Linked DNA regions of Homo sapiens. The protein of the gene in region 4 purifies or fractionates together with the protein of the main gene of each other region. This does not show direct contact. Each region holds a gene or a part of one and is shown on either strand. Other genes may lie near its edges.

Region 1 (4,041 bases), on a different chromosome or scaffold from region 4:
ATATAAATATATATTATTATCTTAATATATATAATATATATTATTATCTTAATATATATAATATATTATTATCTTAATATATATTATTATCTTAATATATAATTATATAATAATATACAATATATAATATATATTATATATATAATTGTATATATAATATAATATATAATATATATTATAATATTAATATCATAATATTATATATGATATATAAATATAATAATATATTAATATATATTAAGATAATAATATTAATATATTAATTATATAATTAATATATTATATATAATATAAGATAATTATAATATATAATTGATAATATTGATATATTAATTAATATTATATCTCAATATATAGATATATTATAATTATATTATATAATTAATGTATTAATTAATATTATTATCTTAATATATATTAATATAATATTATTATATTTATATTATATATTATATATTTATATATTAATATAATATTATTATATTTATATTATATATTATATATTTATATATTAATATATAATGTTATATATTATATAATATATAATATTATATATTAATATATAATATTATATATTATATAATATATAAAATTATTATATATTAATATATAATGTTATATATTATATAATATATAAAATATTATATATTATATCATATTATATATATAATTTCATTTAAACTTGTATCTTAGAAATTCTTATCAGTAAGCGTACGTGATTTCATTTATTTATTATTCTTTTGGATACTGGACATAATCAGGTGGCCCCAATTCTTTACACTGGCAGCAAAGATAAGCAAATTCTTCCAGCAGGCCAAATTTGACCCCGCACTTGATGAGCGTGGTGGACACAGAGGGTTTTTTAATAGCATAGGAATGTTTTTTGCTTCCCACCGGACCCACTAGCCTCTAGTGCCACCGATTAATATTACCTTCCTTGAATCAGGAGGAAACCATTTGTGACTTCTCATATGTAAGATCTTCTAAGGGCAGAAACGCAATTGTCTTTGTATTCACTTCCCCGCCCACCCACACCCCTTCCATGGAGAGCCTGCAGCCAAGCTCAAGCTTTCAAAAAGGCGTGAGCTAATTCAATCATCCTTGCCGCTTTTTTGCTCCTCCAGGCTGTAGAGGGCGACAAAAACCGCGGAGGCGCATTGGGGTGGGGGGTGTCTACTGAAGGCCGCTCCCGACGTGCGCGTCTTTACGTAGACGTCGGGGGCGCAGCCGCGCTGTGCGCGGTGACTGGCGGCTGCACTGGCGGCAGCTGGAGGTGTAATAGTGCGGGTAGTGGGTTTGGAGAAGTTCCGAGGCGGCGGTGGCGCCGGTCAGGACAAGGATAGCGGAACCGGGCCCTGGGCTTGTCGCTCACCATGCCGACAGTAGAGGAGCTTTACCGCAATTATGGCATCCTGGCCGATGCCACGGAGCAAGTGGGCCAGGTGAGTTGAGTCCCCGGGCGGCCTGCAGGGCCTGGCGCTCCGCGGCCTTTCGAAAGCGCTTCCCGCCGCACTCCCCGGGCCGAGCGGGGGCTGCGGCTTCATCCTCCCGGGGCCTCCTAGCCTCCTCAGGCCGTCTCGTCGGGGTGGGCCTCTCTGGGAGTGTAGACTCTGGTTTCACCAGGGAGACCGCGGTCCCCAGGGTTCCAGGCTTCCTTGCCTCCCTTGCCCAGCCTTTTCTCACCGTGGCGTAACCTAACTCAGCCCGTTCAGGCTCACGTTAATTCTTCTCACGGAGCTTTTCTCTACAGGATTCTCTTAAGCCTTTCTCCTTTTCGGTGGAGCTCAGTGCTTCCAAGATTAGATCGGGAGTTTTCTTCATGAGGTCAAGATGTGTTTTTTTTGGGGGGGAGGCAAAATTCTGCTACTAATTGAAGAAGAGTGTTTAGGAGACAGAAGTTTGTGAGAAACAGAAGAGGGACTCTTTGGTCCAGACTTTGATGAGAGCTCACGGTTTCATTTATTCAGTGCATTTTTTTGAGTGCCGAGCGCTGGAGATACAGATGGAAAGGTCCGCGCTCTCCCAGAATGTACAGTTAGGAGGGAGTGTAGTAAGAAAGATAGGCATTGTGAGGCCCGGCTTGGTGGCTCACGCCTGTAATCCGAGCACTTTGGGAGGCCGAGGCGGGCGGATCACGAGGTCAGGAGTTCGAGACCAGCCTGACCCACATGGTGAAACCCTGTCTCTACTAAAAATACAAAAATTAGCCGGGCGTGGTGACACGCGCTTGTAATCCTAGCTACTCAGGAGGCTGAGGTGGGAGGATTGCTTGAACCCGGGAGGCAGAGGTTGCGGTGAGCCGAGATCGCTTCACTGCACTCCAGCCTGGGAGACAAAGCAAGACCCCGTCTCAAAAAAAAAAAAAAAGGTTTTTTTTAAAAATTTATTCTTTTTAATGAAACATGTTTGAAGAAAATAAAACAGGGCTGGGCGAAGGAGAGTGTGAGTGCGCAGCTCTGAATGGAGTTGTCTGGAAGAGCTCTCTTAACGATGCTTGCCCCCGATACACAGTTTCTCAGCAGTGTTGAATTATCCATACAAGTCATTTGTTCCCTGTATGAGTTTTCAAGTACTGGAGTACATTGAACTTGATAAGTGGTTGGGTATGTGTGTTCTTGGGAAAAGAACCAGGCTCTCCTGGAGGTAACCTTGATCATTGTTTTAGAAATCCCACACCATAGCTTTTCAGCGCTTAGAACTTTGTGATTTTTCTGCTTACGCATCCCTTCTTGGAGAAAGTGGAAGATTCTAGTCTATTAACAGTCGTGGGAGTACCTTTCCCGTCCCCTTTTCTTAACATAATTCAAATAGGACTTTTCTGAGCTGAACGAAAAAAAAAAAATTTCATGTTGGAGATTTATTGTAGCTTAATCTAGAATTAAGAATATACCAGTTTGAAATAGCAAATGATTTTTTTTCCTTCATTCCCTGTCAGTAGGGAATTTCACTTTTATCAGTAAGAAATGTATACGGATGTTCTGCTGTACATGTGGATAGAGTGTGTAGGTCGGTTGTGAAGGAGGAATATTCTGTTCATTAAGAAGGTAAAAACTGCCAGGCACGGTGGCTCACGCCTGTAATCCCAATTCTTTAAGGGGCGTGGATGGGCAGATCAGTTGAGATCAGGAGTTCGAGACCAGCCTGGCCAACATGGTGAACCCCCATCTCTACTAAAAATACAAAAATTAGCCAGGCGTGGTGGCATGCGCCTGAAGTCCCAGCTATTTGGGAGGCTGAGGCAGGACAATTGCTTGAACCCGGAGGGTGGAGGTTCCTGTGAGCTGATATCGGGCCACTGCACTCCAGCCTGGGCAACAGAGCAAGACTCCATCTCAAACAAAAAATTAAAAAAAAAAAAAGATACAAACTATGTGTGGTCAATCAGTTTGAATTTGTTGTTCCTAAAAAGAACTAGTAGTGAAGATATTCTCAATCGTATAATTTATCTGTGACTTAGTTGGGTAACTTTGTAGCAAATTGTTCTACCTACGTTAGACTTTGTTGCATATCAGTAGGGGGATAGGGTGAAAGCTACAACAGTGGTTGTGTCAGGAATCCTTCTAAGAAACCTTTGAAACCGTATACATAATGCTGTCCATCCCCTACTCTAATTTTGAGAGTTGCTTGCATTTCCTTCTCATGTCATCTTTATAAAAACCAGATTGAATTGAGAGTTCTCCCCAAGGGGTCAAAATGTCTTTCACAGCAAAAATCTACTCTTTATTTAGTAAGGGTACTTTAGAGACAAGTTTGTGAAAAATGAAAAAGGATACCTTTGTCTACACTTTAATGAGGACTCCATGCTTTATTCCGTACATTTCACCTACCATGTACCACACACCCGGCTGGACACTGAAATTTAACACAATTCTCTGTAGGTTATGGGTGATCAATGCGTTCTGTATTGACAACTGTCAAGCAACTATTTAAACAGTATCTCTGCATAATGAGATGTAGTGGTTAGCTCAGGCAGCTCAAATATTGTGAATTGTAGGAAAACCGAAGATAATGCCTACTAATTCTGCTCTGTTGGGTTATACT
Region 2 (3,422 bases), on a different chromosome or scaffold from region 4:
CTCCCGGGTTCAAGCGATTCGCCTGCCTCAGCCTCCCGAGTAGCTGGGATTACAGGCATGTGCCACCACACCTGGCTAATTTTGTATTTTTAGTAGAGACTGGGTCTCTCCGTGTTGGTCAGACTGGTCCTGAGCTCCTGACCCCAGGTGATCTGCCTGCCTCAGCCTCCCAAAGTGCTGGGATTACAGGCATGAGCCACCGCACCCAGCCTACATATCCATTTTGTAAGAGTGTCACTGTGGCAAAACCCCAACTGGTAAATGAACCTATTATTTCACCTATGTTTCTCTTATGCTAAATACAATGAACATAAAAGACTTAAGAGCCTTCTTCAGGAAGACATTTTTGGAACAGAATTATAAATATTTTGGGTAATAAGTTGCTAGAATTTTTTAAATAAAAATAGAGAGTATAATACTTCTCTCACCAACATAAACAAAATTAGAGAAACAGAAGAAAGAAAAAGCATTGAGGAAAGATAATTTTAAGAAAGTGCAGATTGAATTCGAATTAATTTTATTTTATAAGGAATTTAGAAAACATGAGCAAATATTCATATTGCATTAAAAAAACAAAGTCTATATATCATTCAAATTTTAAAAGTCAGTGTGACACTAAAAAATGTACTAACAAAGTAATATGTTTCATTTTAGAACAAAATTTTATCAGTGGCTCATCACAACTGATATACAAACAAAATGCTAAAATGATGTAAAACTGAATCTCAAAGTGATCCAGTTGGATGAAGGGAGCACCAATTATCATCGATGTGGGACTGCCATATACTCTACCAAAGAAAACAAACTACCATTAGGTGATAAAGATGAGCAAATAAATAAACTAGAGGGAGGGAATGAGCCCACAATTTCTGAAATTTTACAGTAAGTGGTTTATTTGTTTCTGTTGTTACATGTCTTTTGTCTGTTTTCTTCCTTCAAGAAATTAAGTGGATGTGTGAAGGATCCAAGAATATTTCCCAGGTATATCTTACTTTTTCAGGAAGAATAACTTTATACTGAAGAAATAATGATTAATACTCCCTATCACTTCAGCCACTGAATATACTATTAAAATTATTTGTTTTTACAACTATAGTATGCTTTTATTTATTTATTTTTAAACTGTAAGTCAATAATATTTAAAGAATGAAAGTCTCTTCATTTAAGAAATATACAGTCATCCTTTGGTATGAGAGGGGGACTGATTGCAGGACACCCCTTAAACCCCTCCTCTATACCAAAATCCATGGATGTTCAAGCCTCTTATATGAAATGGCTTGCTATATGCATATAACCGATGCACATCCTCCTGTATACTTTAACCGCCTGTATACTGTAACCTTTAAATTACTTAAAATACCTAACACAATGTAAATGTTATAGTAAAACTTTTACAGCTGTTAAACTGTATTTTTAAAATTTTACATTCTTTTTTTCTTTTTTTTTTTTTTTCTATTTTTGATCTGTGGTTGGTTTAATCTGTGGGTTTGAAACCCTTGGATATAAAAGACTGACTTTATTTAACTCCTGAAAAAAATTCCTTTTTTGAAAAGTGACAATAACATGAAGTTAATACATCAGGAGTCTTGAAAAGAATATTAGGTAATCCAATTATAACAATTTAAATTAGAATATTCAGGAACTGTATCTTGAAGGCTCAAAAATACTATTTATTTATTTATTTATTTATTTTTGAGATAGTCTCACTCTGTCGCCCAGGCTGGAGTGCAATGGTGTTATCTTGGCTCAGATTCTTCTGCCTCAGCCTCCTGAGTAGCTGGGATTACAGCCACCCACCACCATGCCGACTAATTTTTGTATTTTTAGTAGAGACAGGGTTTCACCATGTTGACCAGGCTAGTCTTGAACTCCTGACCTCAAGTGATCTGCCCACCTCGGCCTCCCAAATTGCTGGGATACAGGTGTGAGTCACTGCGCCCAGCCTCAAAAACACAATTTATGATTCCTTGTGAATTAAATTTCACTAAGATGAAGCACATCTAAGTTTAAAACTTGGGTACCATTATGTTTTACAATTTTTAAGAAAGAAAATTCACAACCTACTCAATAATCCTGAAGAAAAATCAGATTAAAAGTAGTAGGATATTTGTACATACAACATGTATAGATATATAAATAAACACTTTCTAGAAGGAAAAGGTATCATATTTAGTATTTATAGGCTACACTCTTTCTTTTAAGGAAGATTATAAAAGAGGGGCTAGGTATGGAGCCAGAAGTTGTGAGGGAAACCTCAAAGTAGTAAATACTATAACTCTTTGTAGAGTTTTACACTCAGTGTAAAGAAATGCAAAAAAATCCTTATACTATTAAATCTTTACTTGTATAAAAACCGAAATTAGTCCAACTACTTTTTGCCCATTTATGATGATAAAAATTGAAACAAAAACTCTCAACCCATTTTGTAAGACTTCTATTATAACATTCTTAAATCCAGTTCATATTGTTCCAGAGTCATGTAACATCAAGGTGGGGACACAAAATATGATAGTGAATTTTACCTTTTCTTAGGAAATGATCACAATTTCATTGAAAGTACAGGATAAAGTGAATAGCCCCTTAACGACTTGTGTACTTTATTGTCTTCAATAGAAAGTTCAAATATTTCCATTTTTTAAACCTCTAGAATATTATCCGGACATTTAAAATATTGATATTTGAGTTTACATTAAAGGACATCATACTCTGAAAACAGGCTGGCTTTAAATATAGTTTGACTGATTGTGGGGGTACTTACGGACAGATTTCTTTACCAAGTACCAGTTTCTTATATTTAAAAAAAATCAGCAAGATAGAATTTAAAAAATCTTCATTTACAATACATTGTAAACTGCAGACAGCAACTGCCACATACATCATAGACCAGCACAGGTAAAAATCTTTTTTCCGGATGTCTATAAGACTTTGTATCTTCCTTTATTTGTTGGTTGGTATGAATTTTGCTGTAATAGGAAATAAAAGATATGTCATCAGAGAAAGCAAAACAAAAAAAACAAAAAAAAAAAACGAACCAACCAACCAACCAAACAAACCCAAAAGGAAATATTTAAGATCATTTCCTTTGCCAACTTATAAAACTATTGGTTATTTAAAATTTTAAATGTTACTATTACTGCATTGAGAAAGGAAAAACTATTCAATAACTAATGAATTCTCTGTTCACTCAACTATTCCTTAACAACTATGTTTTGAATCAACCTAATGGTGGTAGCATCTATGGGCACAAGATTCTTTTCGACCACTCCTTGGTGAAATAGTATTAAGCACATGATTTAACAGCTGTTTTACTTTTTCCCTCTTGTTTTGTGAACCCACTTTTCATTAAACTTCTAACCACCCCCACCCCCCAACAAAAAAAGGAATGCTCTGTGAGGGGAATTTTAGAAAAGCTCTCAGAATTA
Region 3 (3,121 bases), on a different chromosome or scaffold from region 4:
CCAGGACTTTGCCAAACACGCATTCATGCCCCGCACCTTGCCCACTCAGCTCTTCTTTGTCTGCCTAAGTCAATTTTAACACTATCCAATACCAACCTATAGCAGCACCTCCCCAGAGTCAGGATCTGCTGTCAGGAAGCAGCAGCCCTCCCAGCCATGAGGGGCACCTAGAATTTCGTTTACAAGCAGTTGTTAAAAGAAGCCACATGTTGTGTAAATGCTTGATTTCTTCCATCTTGGGAAAAAAATGTTCCTTTACCTAACCAAAAACAGCCAGACTTTCAAGGTTTCTGCCTGGTTGGGAAAAGGACATTTTTAGCAAGTGAGGGGAAAAAATTGGCATCCTATTTCTAATCATCACCAGCTTTTAAAATAACTTCACTCATCCCAGAATTAAAATGACAGGAAGACTCTTCCATTTCAATGGTGCTTCCCAAATTTAAAATTGTTACATTCCATGAGCAGCTAAAAAGAACTCAAAAATAAAGGCAAGCATTAAATATTACGTAAGGTTTTCTTTTATTTAAAAGATCATTCACAAAATACCATATCCATAGATTTACTTTCTGTCATATAGCTGAATGTGTTAAGTGTTTGGAATTCCATTCTTACATTTAAAAGTCAACTGGATTGCCCAGCAGTTTAGATGCATGTGTTTTGTTCTTTATCTTATCCACATTGAAGATGTAAGTAGGTCATCTGAAAGCATCGGGTTTGATTACACCACATAATGCATGTCTTTCTGAAGTTAAGTGTTGGTGTTACACAAATGGTTCTTATCTCAGAAGCAGAGAAGCTGACAGGTGGAAGGAAGGAGAGAGAGTTCTGTGGATTGCTGAGGCCTTGTAACAAGACACAGTAGGAAAAGCCCAGGATGACGGCTGGTGACCAAATACTAAGCACATTCCGCTGGGTGCCCCAGGCCACCCTGGCCCTGCCATCACCTGGCGAGGGCCTCTTTCCCAGGCTCCTGCTGCCGGCCGCCCCCAAACTGCTCCCCATAGGACAGACTGGGACTTGGGTACTGAAGGATTTTTCATCTGTTCACACGCAGGCGTTCAAGCTCAAAAGCCTAACCCCTAGCACTCCCACATAACTGCTGAACCCTGCACATGGGAACAGTCCAGTGTGTCCCCAAGATGTGGCCGCAGACCTAGACAGCTGCAGTCCTCTACTGCTATCTGAAGGTTCCTGACAGCTCTGCATAGTACAATTTATCAAAGGAAATGAGTAAAGTGCCAGATTCTAGACCCATTTTGGCTCTGAACTGAAGGGGAGGTGGGAAGCACAGTATCTCATTATGTTGCCTATACTAGGAACAGATCCACACAACACACAGGCAACAGGGATGGGGGGAAACGCTGCGTCAGCGCCGCAGTCAGCCCAGTGCAGCACCAGCACCACCCCCTCCACCCCCAAAGCGCCTTGGCCCAGCAGAAAAGAAACCCGCTGGCCATTCACTGCACCCAGCCAGAGAGGCCAGCCTCCACCACGCACGGCGAAAGGAGTGAACTAGCTGGGACACACACACGTGTGAATGCATGCAAGCATTCACTGCATCTTCTCCGTGGACTCCCTACCGCTCTTCCATAGCCCCCCCTTTCAGCCTCACTGTTTCTCGTGTGAGCCTATCTGCTTGGACAGTCCACTCGGGAGGGGGTCATGGAGCCAGGACTCCCTCTAAATAGGAATGGAAAGGACCCTGCAGATATTTTTATCCTAGTTGTGAAAACAAGGTGCCTCTGATTCTCTATATCCATCACAGCTGAATACCAACAAGGTCTCTGCTGTTCCCTCTGTCAGTGACTCTGGTTTTTGTTGGAAGCCCCAGCAATACAGAACTCAACATGCAGGTCAGAAGAGAAGCACTGAGGGAATGAAAGGAAACGCCTGGAGTTGGGCCAGTGTCTAAAGTAAAGAGAAAGCAAAGGAAAAATGACGCAGCACCGCAGCCCAAACGCCCCCCCACGGCGGCCACCTCTGCTCCTCCGAGGAACCCCATGTGCTGCTGGGAAAACAAGGAGCAGGAGAAAAAGGACAGAAGGAAAATGGGGAAGCAGCGGAAGAAAGAAAAAAACGCACAAACAGGCACTAGATAGATACAGCAAAGCCCAGAATGTACTAAAAACCACTTGTTAACAGCTGACATGCACTCACAAGCTGTGTTTCCGCTGTGAGGAGGCCAATGGCAGGCGCAGGAGTGGCGGCTGCAGGACGGCTGCCCGGGGACTCACCAGGCTGTGGTCCTGCTCTAACCCCCCACGCCCCATTCCCTCCCAACCGCAGGCTCATTCTTGCTCCTTTTGAACGACTTCCTCTCTAGGCCTGGCACCCCCGAAGATAGCAGAGTTGGGATTGGCTACTTGATTGAGGGGCGTCGCGACTGTTCGAGGTTTAAGCTGGAGTCGTGGTCTCTGTGCTCTTTCCTCTGGGGGAGAAAAAGCAGAGTTTGTCAGAGTGTGGATCCCATTCCATATCCAGCAAAACGACCATGCTGATGTTGCTGTCAGCAAACCAGCCCACTTTCTAAAATTCACCTGGCCTGCTACCCCAACAGCAGATGCTCTAATGACCAAGGTGAACTTGCTATTCCAGAGAACGTGGGGATCTATGCCGACAACTCTGTGTGCCGTAGAACGCCAAGTCCCCACGGGGTGTGAACCGGCCATGATCATCCCATCAGGACAAGATGCCCTCCACTGACACATGAGCCCGTACCTTCTGTGGGTTCTCTGAAATCCATGTTGGATCCACGGAGGGGAGGGCCATCTCTGAAGCGGCTGCCCATGGGGGGGCCTGTTCGCCGGTCGCCTGGGCGACTACCTCCCCTGCCCCCTAAGAAGTCATCCCTGAAGCCTGAGGAAGAAACAGGACACTGAATTACTTTTCAAACTATCGTCTCCAAGCTGCTTATAGAATAATGTTCTGGGAATTGTTTGAGTTTCATTTTAAATTCTTTAGTTTGTCCACTATCTGAAGTCTCTCCAAAATAAAGTGTGTTAAAAGTGGGTCCAAATGCCAATGTGTGGAGTAATGACAGCGCTAACAGACTTCCCAAAGAAAAAGGAATCAAGATCTTAGGAGAGCAAACAAACGAGCTGTTTACATGCTCAGCTTGCAT
Region 4 (3,500 bases):
TGAAGGCAAAATAGACTTTCAGACATACAAAAGTCGAAAGTTGAAAGAAGACCAGGAGTAGTGGCTCACACCTGTAATCCCAACATTTGGGAAGCCAAAGTGGGAGGATCCCTTGAGCCCAGGAGTAAGAGACCAGCCTGGGCAACGTAGGAAGACACCATCTCTACAAAAAGTAAAAATAAAAAATTATCCAGGCGTGGTGATGCATGCCTATAGTCCCAGCCACTCAGGAGGCTGAGGATTGCTTGGGTCTAGGAGTTCAAGGCTGCAGTGAACTATAATTGTACCACTGCATTCCAGCCTGAGTGACAGAGTGAATCCTGTCAAATAAAAAAAAAAAAATGCTGAAAGAGTTAATCACCAACAGGCCTGCAACAGAAGAAAAAATAACATCCTTCAGGTAGAAGGAAAATTATACCAGATGGAAATCTGGATTTGTACAAAGGAATTAAGAGCACCAGAAACAGTGACTACGTGGATAAATCTAAGACTGTTCCTGCAGGGAATGGTGGCTCACATCTGCAATCTCAGCACTTTGGTTGGCTGAGGCAGGAGCATCACTTGAGGCCAAGAACCTTTGATCAGCCTGAGCAACATAGCCCGTTTCTATAAAAAAATTTAAAAAATTAGCCAGATGTGGTGGTGCATGCCTGTAGACCAAGCTACTCAGGAGGCTGAGGCAGGAGAATTACTTGAGCCCAGGAGTTTGCAGCTTCAGTGACGGATCTTGGCTCACTGCAATCTCTGCCTTCCAGGTTCAAGCAATCCTCCCACCTCAGCCTCCCCAGTAGCTGGGATTACAGGCATGCACCACCATGCCTGGCTAATTTTTTGTATTTTTGGTAGAGATGGGGTTTCGCCATGTTGCCCAGGCTGGTCTTAGACTCCTGAGCTCAGACAATCTGCCTCCCTCAGCCTCCCAAAGTGCTAGGATTATAGGTGTGAGCCACTGCGCCTGGCCTGTTATAAGGTTCTTATATCACATGAAGTTGAAGTTTAATGTATACTGTAGCAAGATAAAGATGTTTACCACAAACCTTAAAGCAGTCACTTAGAAACAAACAAACAAAAACTAAATATAGCCGTTACAGCTAATCAGCCAATAAAGGATGTAAAATGGAATCATAAAAAATAATCCAATAGAGGTAGAAGGAGGGGGAAAAGGGAACAAAGAACAAATGAGACAAACAGGAAACAAACAGCAACATGGTAGATCTAAAGTCAAACAGACCAATAATCACATTAAATATAAATGGCATAAGATTCCAATTAAAAGGCAGAGATTATGAGATTAAAAACAAATCCCATCTATATGCTGCCCATAAAACATACCATTAAACACAAGAACACAAATCAATTAAATACGTTAAAAGTAAAAAGATAGGAGGCTGGGTGTGGTGTCCCAGCACTTTGGGAGGCCAAGGCAGGTGGATCACTTGAGGCCAAGAATTTGAGACCAGGCTGGCCAACATGGTGAAACCTCATTGCTACTAAAAACACAAAAATTAGCTGGGCTTGGTGGTGCAAGCCTGTAATTCCAGCTACTTGGGAGGCTGAGGCACAACAATTGCTTGAACCTGGGAGGTGGAGGTTGCAGTGAGCCAAGATCACGCCATTGCACTCCAGCCTGGGCAACAGAGAGAGATTCTGTCTCAAAAAAAAAAAAGTAAAAAGATGGGAAAAGATATGCTAACACTAATGAAAGCTGGAGTAGCTCTCTTAGTATCAAAGTAGATTTCAGGGAAGAGAATATTGCCCAGAAAAAAAAGTATCATTCCAAGAGAAAATTATAATTCTATATGTTTTTATACTAAAAAACAGAGCTTCAAAATATATGAAACAATAACTGGTAAGTAAGAAAGGAAAATAGACAAAGTCATGGTTATAGCTGAAGTTATTTCAACATTCTTCTTTTAATAATCAACAGAACAAGTAGAAAGAAAATCAGCAAGAATATAGTAGCCTGAGATAACCAACCAGACCTAACTGACATTTACAGAACATTCCACCCAATAATGGCAGAAAACATGTTCTCAAGCACACACAGAATATTCACTAAGATAGACCATATTCAGGGCCATAATACAACTCTCAATAAAGGAAAACAGATTTAAATCACTAAGTACGTTTTCTTATCACAATGGAACTAAATTAGAAATCAATGGCAAAGTACTAATTGGGAAACCCCCAACTATTTGGAAACTAAATAACTCCCATGGTTCACAGAAGAAATCATATAATCCACTTCTAAATAATCCACAGGTCAAAGGAGAAGTCAAAATGGAAATCACAAAGTATTTAGAACCGAATAAAAATTAAAGAACAGCATATATATAAAAACTGTGGGATGCAGCTAAAGTAATGCTAGGAGTGAAATTTACAGCATTTAAACAACCATATTAGAAAAGAAGAAAGGTCTCAAATCAAAGATCCAGGCTTCCACCTTAAGAATCTGAAAAAAAAGGCCGGGCACAGTGGCTCACGCCTGTAATCCCAGCACTTTGGGAGGCTGAGGCGGGTGGATCACCTGAGTTCAGGAGTTCGAGACCAGCCTGGCCAACATGGTGAAACCCCGTCTCCACTAAAAATACAAAAAATTAGCCAGGCATGGTGGCATACGCCTGTAATCCCAGCTACTTGGGAGGCTGAGGCAGGAGAATCACTTGAACCCGGGAGGCGGAGGTTGCAGTGAGCTGAGATCACACCATTGCACTCCAACCTGGGGGACAAGAGCGAAACTCCGTCTCAAAAAAAAAAAATTTTTTTTGAAAAAAAAAAAAAAAAAGGATAAAGTTAACTGAAAATAAATAGAAGAAAGGAAATAATAAAGGCCCAAGCAGAAATCAATGAACTAGAAAACCAAAGCAAAAGGGAGATCAATGAAACCAAAGGTGGTTCTTTGAGAGGATCATAACATTGACACACTTCTAGACAGACCATTCAGAAAAAAAGACAGACGACTCGGGTGAAGTCCTTGTTCTGCCTCTTCCCAGTCGTGTGGCCTTGAGAAGTTCTGTTTTATTTTTCATCTTTCATAGGCTCACTTTCCTCACTGACAAAATGGAAAAAATAATAAACTCATTCTCAAAGCTGTTATAAGAATCAAAAGCTTTTTAAGTAGTTTCCTAAGACAATGCTACACACACTGGGGAGAAAGGAGTCAGCAGCCCTACACTGTAAATGTTTCTGAAGTTTCTGTACATTACGATGTCTAGACATCTTAAAAGACCTTTCTGGCTGCGGAGACACTGCCTTCAGGGTTAGGCAAGTACTAGAGAAAAAAGCAGCCCCAAGTGTGTCTCTGATATGCCAGCTAACCCCTCTGGAGCCATCCTTCCTCCACCAGCCTGGCCTGCACCCCAGGAGGCAAGATTTTTCTGCCTTAAGCCTGAAACCCACCAAAATTCCTCCAACTGCAAGTCCTAAGCTGGTCGCCTTTCTTCACCTTGCCTTTATCAAGAAAATCTCGATAAAGGCTGTGGCCTAAACCACAGCTTTGG
Region 5 (3,500 bases), on a different chromosome or scaffold from region 4:
ACCATAGGAGGCAACATGGTGGTTAAGAGGTAACACAGTGGTTAAGAGCTTAATCACATCCCAGACTGTCATAAAACATCTATCTCTCTTAAAACTATAGTATCCTTACCCATAAAGTAAGAATAATATCCACCTCATAGATGTGACAGGATGCTTAAATGAAGTAACTGGCATAAAACATTTAGCACAGTATGTGGGCACATAGTAAACACTCAAAAAGTTAGCTACTCATTTTGGAACAAGTAGCACAGTAAGTCGGCAGAAAGAAAAGAATGGAAGCAGGCATGCAGACAAAAGTAGAAAAAAGATTCATAAGACTAATTCAATTCCCTTTCTGGGTGAAATACATTTCCATGTTAGGGTTCTTGACTCCTGTGTCCTTATAATACAATGCCCTTTCTTTGCTTATCTGTTTCTTACAAAGGACCCTGCCTTTCATAATTATACACTACAGACCGGGCATAGTGGCTCACAATGGTAATCCCAGCACTTTGGGAGGCCAAGGTGGGCAGATCACCGGAGGTCAGCAGTTCGAGATCAGTCTGACCAACATGAAGAAACCCCATCTCTACTAAAAATACAAAACTTAGCTGGGCGTGGTGGCACACACCTGTAATCCCAGCTACTCCGGAGGCTGAGGCAGGAGAATCGCTTGAACCCGGGAGGCGGAGGTTGCAGTGAGCCAAGATGATGCCACTGCACTCCAAGCCTGGGCAACAAGAATTAAACTCTGTCTCCAAAAAAACATAATATATATTTTTAAATATAATTTTAAAAAGGTTTTGCTTTTGCCTCTTCTTTAAAAATCCTTGGCCAGGCAACATGGCTCACGCCTGTAAACCCAGCACTTTGGGAGGCTGAGGCGGGTGGATCACCTGAGGTCAGGAGTTCGAGACCAGCCTGGCCAAAATGGAGAAGCCCTGTCTCTACTAAAAATACAAAAATTAGCCGGGCATGGTGACGCATGTCTGTAACCCCAGCTACTGGGGAGACTGAGGCAGGAAAATCGCTTGAATCCAGGAGGTGGAGGTTGTGGTGAGCCAAGATTGTGCCATTGCACTCTAGCCTAGGCAACAAGAACGAAACTCCATCTCAAAAAAGAAAAACAAAAAACTAGCCGGGCATGGTGTCTGTAATCTCAGCTACTCCGGAGGCTGAGGCAGGAGAATCACTTGAACCCGGGAGGCGGATGCTGCAGTGAGCCGAGATCGCGCCATTGCACTCCAGCCTGGGCAACACAGCAAAATTTCGTCTCAAAAAAAAAACAAAAAAAAAACCTTAATGTCACCCACATCCCACCAAATGATGTTAAAATAAAATGCCCCCCTGCAAAAACTTCTTTTTCTTAAAGAGGGTTTCACTTTGTCACCTGGACTAGTGTGCAGTAGTGTGACTATAGCTCATTGCAACCTCAAACTCACAGGCTCAATGGATCCTCCTGCCTCGGCCTCCCACGTAGCTAGGACAAGTACACCACCACATGTGGTTAATTTTTTTTTTCTTTTTGTAGAGATAAGGTCTCACTATGTTGTCCAGGCTGATCTCCAACTTGTGGCCTGATCTCCAACTCAGGCGTGATCCTCTCACCTCGGCCTCTCAAAGCACTGGGATTATAGGCGCAAGCCACTGCTCCCAGCAGCATCTAATATATATATATTTTTTTGAGACAGAGTTTCACTCATTGCCCAAGATGGAGTGCAATGGCACGATCTCAGCTCACTGCAACCTCTGCCTCCCGGGTTCGGGCGGATCTCCTGCTTCAGTCTCCCGAGTAGCTGGGATTACAGGCGCTCACTACCACGCCCGGCTAATTTTTTGTATTTTTAGAAGAAACGGGGTTTTAAGATGTTAGCCAGGCTGGTCTCGAACTCCTGACCTCATGTGATCTGCCTACCTGAGCCTCCCAAAGTGCTGGGATTACAGGCTTGAGCCACCATGCCCAGCCCTAATACACCTTTTAAGTTAACTACCTTATTCACACTGACACTTTGACCATGTCCTCAGAGAGAATAAAAGAGTGGAAGCACGTAACAAGTGGCATTTGAGGCAAATGATGCTGGCATTCTGACACTCCCTATTCATTATCTTCTCTCTCTGAATACCCACCTTATTTTCCTATCTTTTCCAGCCTTCAATCTACTGTGACACCCCCAGGAACAGCCTCATCTCATTGTCAGTGTTTACTAATAAACCATACGTTCCACTGCGTAGTGACCTATTCACCACAAACCGTAACATGATACAAAGAAAAAAAAGTCAAAGAGTAACGCTATAAAGATTTCACCAAGTCCCAAACTTTCTATGATTGATTTTATCCTCCATTTGCTAAATCACACTAGAATAACAGCTGTAATTCTATTAAAGTGCATTCTCACACACAACCAAAACATATCATCGGAACTATAAAAAAATTGCTCTGGCCGGGCACGGATGCTCACACCTGTAATCCCACCACTTTGGGAGGCTGAGGTAGGAGGACTGCTTGAGCTCAGGAATTCCAGACGAGGCTGGTCAACAAAGCAAGACCTCATTTCTAGTAAAATTCAGGCCGGGCGTGGTAGCTCACGCCTGTAATCCCAGTACTTCGGGAGGCCAAAGCAGGCAGATCACCTGAGGTCAGGAGATCGAGACCAGCCTGGCCAACATGGTGAAACCCCATCTCTACTAAAAGTACAAAAATTAGCTGGGTGTGGTGGCGCATGTCTGTAGTCCCAGATACATGGGAGACTGAGGCAGGAGAATCGTTTGAATCCAGGAGGCAGAGGTTGCAGTGAGCGGAGATGGCGCTACTTCACTCCGGCCAGGGCGACAGAGCGAGACTGTCTCAAAAATAAAATTAAAAAATTAGCTGGGTGTTAAGTGCTACAGGCCTGTAAGTCCCAGCTACTCAGGAAGCTGCGGCAGGAGGATCTCTTGAGCTCAGGACTTCAAGGCTGCAGTGAGCAATGATTGCGCCACTCCACTCCAGCCTGGGGAACAGAGCAAGACTGTCTCAAAATAATAAAATACAAATAGTTCTGAGACTCAACACATTTTTATAGGTTACTCAACCATTATTTCTTTCTTTTTTTGTGAGACGAGTCTCGCTCTGTCGCCCAGGCTGGAGTGCAGTGGCGCAACCTCAGCTCACTGGAACCTCTGCCTCCCAGGTCCAAGCGATTCTCCTGCCTCAGTCTCCCAAGTGGCTGGCATTACAGGTGCACACCACCACACCCAGCTAATTTTTGTATTTTTAGTAGAGGTGGGGTTTCGCCATGTTGCTCAGGCTGGTCTCAAACTCCTGACCTCAGGTCATCCACCCACTTTGGCCTCCCACAGTGCAAGGATTACAAGCACGAGCCACAGCACCCAGCCCATTATTTCTACCGCTCAAAAATTGCCCAGGCAAACACAAAAGCTTCTGCTTTTGCTATATGCCTAGGTAAAGAAGCTAAAATGTTTGTTCTCTACCTTCAGTCTAATTCCATAATCAACACCAAGGGAAAGGAATTTGCTATAAC
Region 6 (3,190 bases), on a different chromosome or scaffold from region 4:
AGCCTTATATGTGTGATTAGGACCCATGCATAATTTGGTATGCATCTGAACGTTCAGTGCTCCAATTTAACTGGAAAAGCTGTGAAATGCAGTTGTTCTGCCAAACCACACTCCACTCCTTTCATCTTCCTTTCTAGGGAAATAATTTAGTTTGTCAGTTATCATTGAATAACTCGAGGGCTGATTTGTAGATTTTATCCAATGTCATAAAAGTCAATCTTGCCTTTTTCAAGCCACTTCAAATAACTATGGAGATTATTATCACCCTGTAAAGTATATTGTTTTACTCCTAAGCAAGGGTGAGGAATCTGAGTATCATGTGCAAGGCTCAAGATGACGCTTAGGACAGAACATGCAGAGTAAAAATAGTTTCCTTCCATATCCAGGTAATAGAAAGCTGACAATTGTAGTCCTGTCTTTATGGGATGAAAACAGTCCCTTTACAATAAGTTTCCTGAAAGGGAGAACAAATAGATAATAACTCTTCTGGTAACATATTATGGTACACTGGCCAGTGTGTTTTTGGCGATTAAACATAATCCTGTGAATCAGATTAATTCACTTGCTGAGTGTTCATTTGCGGCATCCCTCTGTTGGGTCTTGGGGGCCCTCCACGACCTAGAAGACAAAAATGGCATTTGATTTTTCTTTCAAATATTATTTGTTTTGCCTTCAAGCAGATTTTCATCTGAAGTCAAGAAGCATGTGGGCAGCCTGTCACCACATTATTAGGCTTAAGAGGTCAATTCTTCAGTGTTCAAGTTTCCCCTGTCCTGGAAGTTGTCATGCGCAAATTTGCTCATGTTCTCTTAGCTAAAAGAAGAGTAAAGCTAATGGAGTATTCCACCAGTACTCATTCATTCATTCATTCAACAAATATTTATTGAGTGCCTACTATGTGCCAGGCACCATCATCAAGCGTTGGGAATAGATACAGCAGAGAAGACAGACAAGGTACCTGCTCTCATGGAGCTTACATTCTAGTGTACACTCTAGCTTACATTTCAGTAGTAAGTAACATCATACTATCAAAATTAATAAAAGCACCAGAATGAAAACAGACCTTATTACCTAAACTGTTAAAAAGAAACTACATAACATTCAAAACTGTATAATGACTTTTAACAGATAAAATAACTTTTTACATGCTGTTAAAACAGATTTTTAGCTATCAGTTAACTCAACTTTCATCGAATATGCTACAAGGTGGGAAAGAACATAACCCACATTCACATGCAAACATCCTTTGATACTTCTAGTCAAGTCAGTAATTCCCAAGTGATCCATTAATTTTTAGAAAAATGTACCTTTTTCCTGGCCAGTTTCTACTAGTATTCAAATCAAAGTACGTTGTAATTCCTCCTTAACACACATTTTATACATGTTATGGCCAATAGAGGAAACCTGTTTGATGTTTAACCTCCCTCAAATCAGAGAACCATTTAGAATTTCAGACTACATGAAATGCTAGCTCTAATTGTTAAATAGGTTAACTTCCTGCCAAAATGGGAAGTAGTTTTCCAACAGTAAAAGAAAAACAAAAAACTCTCTAAACCTGTAATTTTTTTTAAGTATAGCTCAATAAGTTAGGAATTTGGGAGTTTTGTTTAAAAGTCAGAAATAACTTGATATTTATATCACTAATAGAGGTCCAAAAGGCATTGCAAATTCCATTAGTTCTATCACTTCTAAATGGTTCTCTAAATGTTAACTATGGCTTATCCGGCCATTAAAGGGTGTCTGGCCCTAAAATATAATAGGCATGTTTCAAAAAAATGAAAGAGGAATAATAAATTTATATAAATGTTCAATCTCATTCCAAAAATGTCTTACAAAAATGTTTCAGTAAGTACTTCCTAAAAACATTTAGCAGGTTTTAGGACCTGAAAAATAATTTTCAGTTGGAAAAACACTTTTTCTGAGAAGAGAATATGTTCTAGTTTTCAAGACAGTTTATATAGTAACAGGGAAAATTAAATCATTCAAAAATTAAAATTTGGGTCCAAGATTAAGTTTTAGAAACAGAGCATTTCATTTAATCCCTAGCAACAAGTCTGGAAAGGATAAATGTATTCCTAACATGCAGACTATTAACAGCTCTTCCAAGGCCAGAACAGAAGCTCCACTTAGGAGCTAGGATCACCACCACAAAATATTACCTCGTGGGGCTCCCCGTGGTCCACTCTGCCCAGAGCCTCGCTTGAAATTCTGCTGATATCCATCCTAAAAGACAAGCTAGTTAGTATTGAAAAGGTACTTTTTAAAAAATGCTTACCCATCTATTCTTTCAGTCTAACACTCAATACAGAATTCTTCCTTAATCTTTTAGACACTTCAGTATCAGTTTATCACAGCTACACCTTGTTCTGTAATTGTTGTACTTCTACTATTCTCAAAGAACATTCAGTGAAATATATTTCTCTGCTCTTGGAAATCACTGTCTTTAACAGGCTTTACTAAAGGAGTACTGATGTTGAGTGCTAAAAGCTTTTGTTTCAACAGAGTGTCTTGGACACCACAAAGTTAACGCCAAATTAGTTACTTAGGTTCATTAAGCAACAACACTAAGTCACTTTCATTGGTATATTTAGTTCAGGTTTACACTTTAGAACTACTTTACCTACCCGTTGATAGCCAGAGTAATCCCGGGGAGCACTGAACTGAGACTGTGTATAACCACTGTTTGGAGTGTTAGAGAATGAAGGGCGGTAACCATCATATCCTCCTAAAATTTAGGACAAGAAAAGAAATAATTTTCTTATCTTCACAAGGAATTTTTACTTTTTTATTAATGAAGACGGGAAGAACTAGAAATTATAAGCCAGGCTAGTTAATCAAATTAATCTCCAATTTCCTATCTTGATCCAATCTGTTTATAAATTTCTGTAAGTACTAACTGCCCCTCAGAAGATAAACTTTTAACCCATCTATGCATGTAAACACACATCTGTACAAATATAATAAACAATCCCCGTAAGTTTTGGTAATGTGGAAAATACTTATCCTCCAGGAGATAGTGGTAGACATTAATTTGACATAACCAAATGAACAAAAATTCCATGATCTGTTATTTAAATAACAAATTATACCAAATACACAAATTGTACCAAAATATACATTGTTTAAATTGCACATAGGAGGCTAATGCAGATACATCCTTCCCAAAAACTGTGTGATATATTTTACAAAT
Region 7 (3,500 bases), about 16 Mb from region 4:
CCCCTTGTCTATATATACTTCATAGGTTTTGTTCAACTGCTATTATACACAGCACTTAGTTGTTTGCTTAGTTTTAAGGTTTTTGTTTGTCTGTTTGTTTTTTTGGGAGACAGAGTTTCACTCTGCCTCCCAGGCTGGAGTGCAGTGGTACAATCTTAGCTCACTGCAACCTCTGCCTCCATGGTTCAAGTGATTATCCTGTCTCAGCCTCCCGAGTAGCTGGGATTACAGGCGTGTGCCACCAGGCTCAGCTAATTTTTTGTATTTTTAGTAGAGATGGGGTTTCGTTATGTTAGGCAGGCTGGTCTTGTACTCCCGACCTCAATCAATCCAACCACCTTGGCCTCCCGAAGTGCTGGGATTACAGGTGTGAGCCACGGCACCCAGGCTGCTTAGTATTAAACTTGAATTACACTACATCAATCTCTACTTAGACCCTTAACTCCAGATAGAAACTGTCTTTACTCATTTTGGACTTCCTTCTCTAACAGTGAGAATGACTAAGGTATGTATTTAGTAAGTACTAATTTACCTGAACTTCATCTCCTGCTGTCTTTCGGAATCCCATAAGGGGATTCCTTCAATCAAGGAATCAACGTAATTCCAGTGTGATGAAATTTAGTAAGAATCTTTACAAGCAAGAAAATTTCAGCATCTGACGTTTTTAAACTAATCTATAAGCTATCTTTACAAGAGGTGTTCCCAAGCAACAAAAAGGATGGGCTCAATTTTAATCTCATTTTTCCTAGTGTATACAATGTATAACAAGGAGCTAATAAGCCATAAGGATGAGAAGGCAAAGAAAGGATAGTGGAAAGACATTTACGTTCAGGTGGATTTTAAGAATCACACAATCTCCTAGCAGGAAAACTTTCAATGGTTTACTGAAAGCTTGCTGAGAAGGTCAGGTGGTATATGATGTGCTAGGCATTCATACATGAAAGATACAGTCCCTGTTCTCAAGGAGTAGACAGTGCAGTCTGAGGCAGCTGAAAACAACATGATGCGTTCTAACAGACGTACTATACAGAGTGCATTCACTGGTGGTCCATGAGTGGGAGCAAAGGCATAGAAGTGTTCTGAGAGATGACATGTTAAATTTTGAAACCTCAAGAGGCATTAGATCAAAGAGGCATTAAAGAAGGGCATTTCAGATGGAAGGATCTGTTAAGTGTTACCACAGAGAACAAGAAATAGTTCAGTGCAGCTAGAGTTCAGTAGCACATTTGGGAAATTTGCAGGACACATGTTCAGAAAGACAGGTAGGGCCAAGATGAACAGCTTAGAAGGCTATGCTAACGACGTACCATACAAAACTGTATTCTGCCAGCTACAAAGAATCGTTAATTTTACACAGAAGGGAAATTTTCAGATCAGTGTTTTTGAAAGACAGAATGAGAGATACTCATGGTAGAGGCAAGGAAAGTAGAAGGCTGTTGCAGCAACGCAGGTATAAAGCGACAAAATTCTGAACTAAGAAAGCACCTGTGGGAAAGGAGAAACGGGGGATGGATCTGAGTTATTTATTTAGATATCTGAGGAAAGATCAATTAGGATTGTGTGACCAGTAATTGGTGTGGAAGCTAAGGAAGAAGAGTCTAGAATAACTTCAGAAGTTTCTGGCTTTAAAGACTGGGTGAACTGTGGAGCCACTAATGGAGATGGAAACCTAAAAGAGCCAGGTTTGCAAAATTAGGCAAAAGGTGAGTTCAGTATCTATGAGAGAGCTGAGTAGAGATGCCAAGCAGGGGCAGTAACTGCAGAGAGGGGTCCGGAGTGAGCTATAGATTTGATGTAAGCCATTTGCATTTGAGGTTACTGATGTAAATAAGCTAGCAGAGAGACCATGCAGAGTGAGAAAAGAAGTAAGACAATTCTTTCTTTTCTCCCCAAGACGGAGTCTTGCTCTGTCGCCCAGAGCTGGAGGGCAATGGCATGATCTTGGCTCACTGCAACCTCCGCCTCCTGAGTTCAAGCAATTCTCCTGCCTCAGCCTCCCGAGTAGCTGGGATTACAAGCACGCACCACCGTGCCCAGCTAATTTTTGTATTTTTAGTAGAGACAGGTTTCACCATGTTGGCCAGGCTGGTCTCAAACTCCTGACCTCGTGATCCACTGCGCCCAGCTGGTAAGACAATTCTTTTTTTATTTTTATTTTTTGAGACGGAGTCTCACTCTGTCGCCCAGGCTGGAGTGCAGTGGCACAATCTCGGCTCACTGCAAGCTCTGCCTCCCGGGTTCACACCATTCTCCTGCCTCAGCCTCCCCAGTAGCTGGGACTACAGGCACCTGCCACCAGGCCCGGCTAATTTTTTGTATTTTTAGTAGAGACGGGGTTTCACCATGTTAGCCAGGATGGTCTCGATCTCCTGGCCTCGTGATCCACCTGCCTCGGCCTCCCAAAGTGCTAGGATTACAGGCGTGAGCCACCACATCCGGCCCAGTAAGACAATTCTTAACATATATCACTATTTAGGAATGGGCAGAAAAAGAGAAGCTTACATGGAAACTTCAGATGGAACAGGGATTGGGGAAGGGAAAGAAAGAAGAGGGGGAAAGAAGGAAGGGGAGACAAGGAGGAACACGGGTGAGGAGAAAGAAGCTCTATAGGCAGAAAACTAAAGAGAAGTTAGGTAAGTTAAGAACTAAAATGTGCCAGGCACGGTGGCTCACGCCTGTAATCCCAGCACTTTGGGAGGCCAAGGCAGGCGGATCACAAGGTCAGGAGATCAAGACCATCCTGGCTAACACGGTGAAACCCCATCTCTACTAAAAATACAAAAAATTAGCCGGACGTGGTGGCGGGCACCTGTAGTTCCGGCTACTCAGGAGGCTGAGGCAGGAGAAAGGCATGAACCTGGGAGGTAGAGCTTGCGGTGAGCCAAGATCCGGCTACTACACTCCAGCCTGGGCGAGAGTGCGAGACTCTGTCTCAAAAAAACAAAACAAAAAGAACTAAAATTCTTCTGTTGTATAGGCAACCAGGAGTCATCAGTGAAAGCAGTTTCAATGGAGCAGTAGGGACAGGGTTGAGGAGTACCTGGCAAGTAAGTAGTAGAAGATGAAGACTAGGTCAAGAGGAGTCAAGAGTACTTTGTAGGCTGTTTATCAATGATAGGAAGGAGAAAGTGAAGCATTACCTACAGAAATTTTATTTTTTAAAGAAACATAGGCATGTTTATATGCTAAAGGGGAAAAACCAGTAAAGTCTGAAAAACTGAAGATGCAAAATGACAGAAAAAAGTCATAGGATTTCCAGAGAAGACCAGACACAATCAAAACTTTTAACAACAGGAGTAACTCACTCTTCCCCCAAAGCTAGAGGGAAGGAGTGAAAAGAACAAACATGACTATGAATCAGCCCTATTAAATAATCAAAAGGTTCATATTACAAAAGCAGCAAATCAACTCCTGCCACAAACAGGCAGGCAGTGAGACCTTGGGCAGGTGAGGGTTGCTTACTGGCTCTCAAGACTTAGCAAGTTGGAAAAGCGATCCTT

What was found.
Region 1: the proteins of SLC26A11 (region 4) and API5 purify together in Homo sapiens (affinity purification with mass spectrometry; one large-scale study listed by BioGRID and IntAct). This does not show direct contact.
Region 2: the proteins of SLC26A11 (region 4) and DDX46 purify together in Homo sapiens (affinity purification with mass spectrometry; one large-scale study listed by BioGRID and IntAct). This does not show direct contact.
Region 3: the proteins of SLC26A11 (region 4) and EIF4H purify together in Homo sapiens (affinity purification with mass spectrometry; one large-scale study listed by BioGRID and IntAct). This does not show direct contact.
Region 5: the proteins of SLC26A11 (region 4) and MLLT10 purify together in Homo sapiens (affinity purification with mass spectrometry; one large-scale study listed by BioGRID and IntAct). This does not show direct contact.
Region 6: the proteins of SLC26A11 (region 4) and CAPRIN1 purify together in Homo sapiens (affinity purification with mass spectrometry; one large-scale study listed by BioGRID and IntAct). This does not show direct contact.
Region 7: the proteins of SLC26A11 (region 4) and DDX42 purify together in Homo sapiens (affinity purification with mass spectrometry; one large-scale study listed by BioGRID and IntAct). This does not show direct contact.

The regions. Positions count from the first base shown.
Region 1 is NC_000011.10:43,310,755-43,314,795, forward strand, and holds the start of API5 (apoptosis inhibitor 5), read left to right. Parts: upstream 1-1,241; 5' UTR 1,242-1,373; coding exon 1,374-1,442; intron 1,443-4,041. UniProt on the Homo sapiens protein: Antiapoptotic factor that may have a role in protein assembly. Negatively regulates ACIN1. By binding to ACIN1, it suppresses ACIN1 cleavage from CASP3 and ACIN1-mediated DNA fragmentation. Also known to efficiently suppress E2F1-induced apoptosis.
Region 2 is NC_000005.10:134,828,200-134,831,621, reverse strand, and holds the end of DDX46 (probable ATP-dependent RNA helicase DDX46), read right to left. Parts: intron 2,964-3,422; coding exon 2,916-2,963; 3' UTR 501-2,915; downstream 1-500. UniProt on the Homo sapiens protein: Component of the 17S U2 SnRNP complex of the spliceosome, a large ribonucleoprotein complex that removes introns from transcribed pre-mRNAs.
Region 3 is NC_000007.14:74,194,476-74,197,596, reverse strand, and holds the end of EIF4H (eukaryotic translation initiation factor 4H), read right to left. Parts: intron 2,857-3,121; coding exon 2,719-2,856; intron 2,429-2,718; coding exon 2,289-2,428; 3' UTR 501-2,288; downstream 1-500. UniProt on the Homo sapiens protein: Stimulates the RNA helicase activity of EIF4A in the translation initiation complex. Binds weakly mRNA.
Region 4 is NC_000017.11:80,230,427-80,233,926, reverse strand, and holds part of SLC26A11 (sodium-independent sulfate anion transporter), read right to left. Parts: intron 1-3,500. UniProt on the Homo sapiens protein: Sodium-independent anion exchanger mediating bicarbonate, chloride, sulfate and oxalate transport.
Region 5 is NC_000010.11:21,540,732-21,544,231, reverse strand, and holds part of MLLT10 (protein AF-10), read right to left. Parts: intron 1-3,500. UniProt on the Homo sapiens protein: Probably involved in transcriptional regulation. In vitro or as fusion protein with KMT2A/MLL1 has transactivation activity. Binds to cruciform DNA.
Region 6 is NC_000011.10:34,096,731-34,099,920, reverse strand, and holds part of CAPRIN1 (caprin-1), read right to left. Parts: intron 2,726-3,190; coding exon 2,625-2,725; intron 2,224-2,624; coding exon 2,160-2,223; coding exon of another isoform or gene 2,140-2,159; exon of another isoform or gene 861-2,139; intron 619-860; coding exon 554-618; 3' UTR 1-553. UniProt on the Homo sapiens protein: mRNA-binding protein that acts as a regulator of mRNAs transport, translation and/or stability, and which is involved in neurogenesis, synaptic plasticity in neurons and cell proliferation and migration in multiple cell types.
Region 7 is NC_000017.11:63,780,670-63,784,169, reverse strand, and holds part of DDX42 (ATP-dependent RNA helicase DDX42), read right to left. Parts: intron 1-3,500. UniProt on the Homo sapiens protein: ATP-dependent RNA helicase that binds to partially double-stranded RNAs (dsRNAs) in order to unwind RNA secondary structures. Unwinding is promoted in the presence of single-strand binding proteins.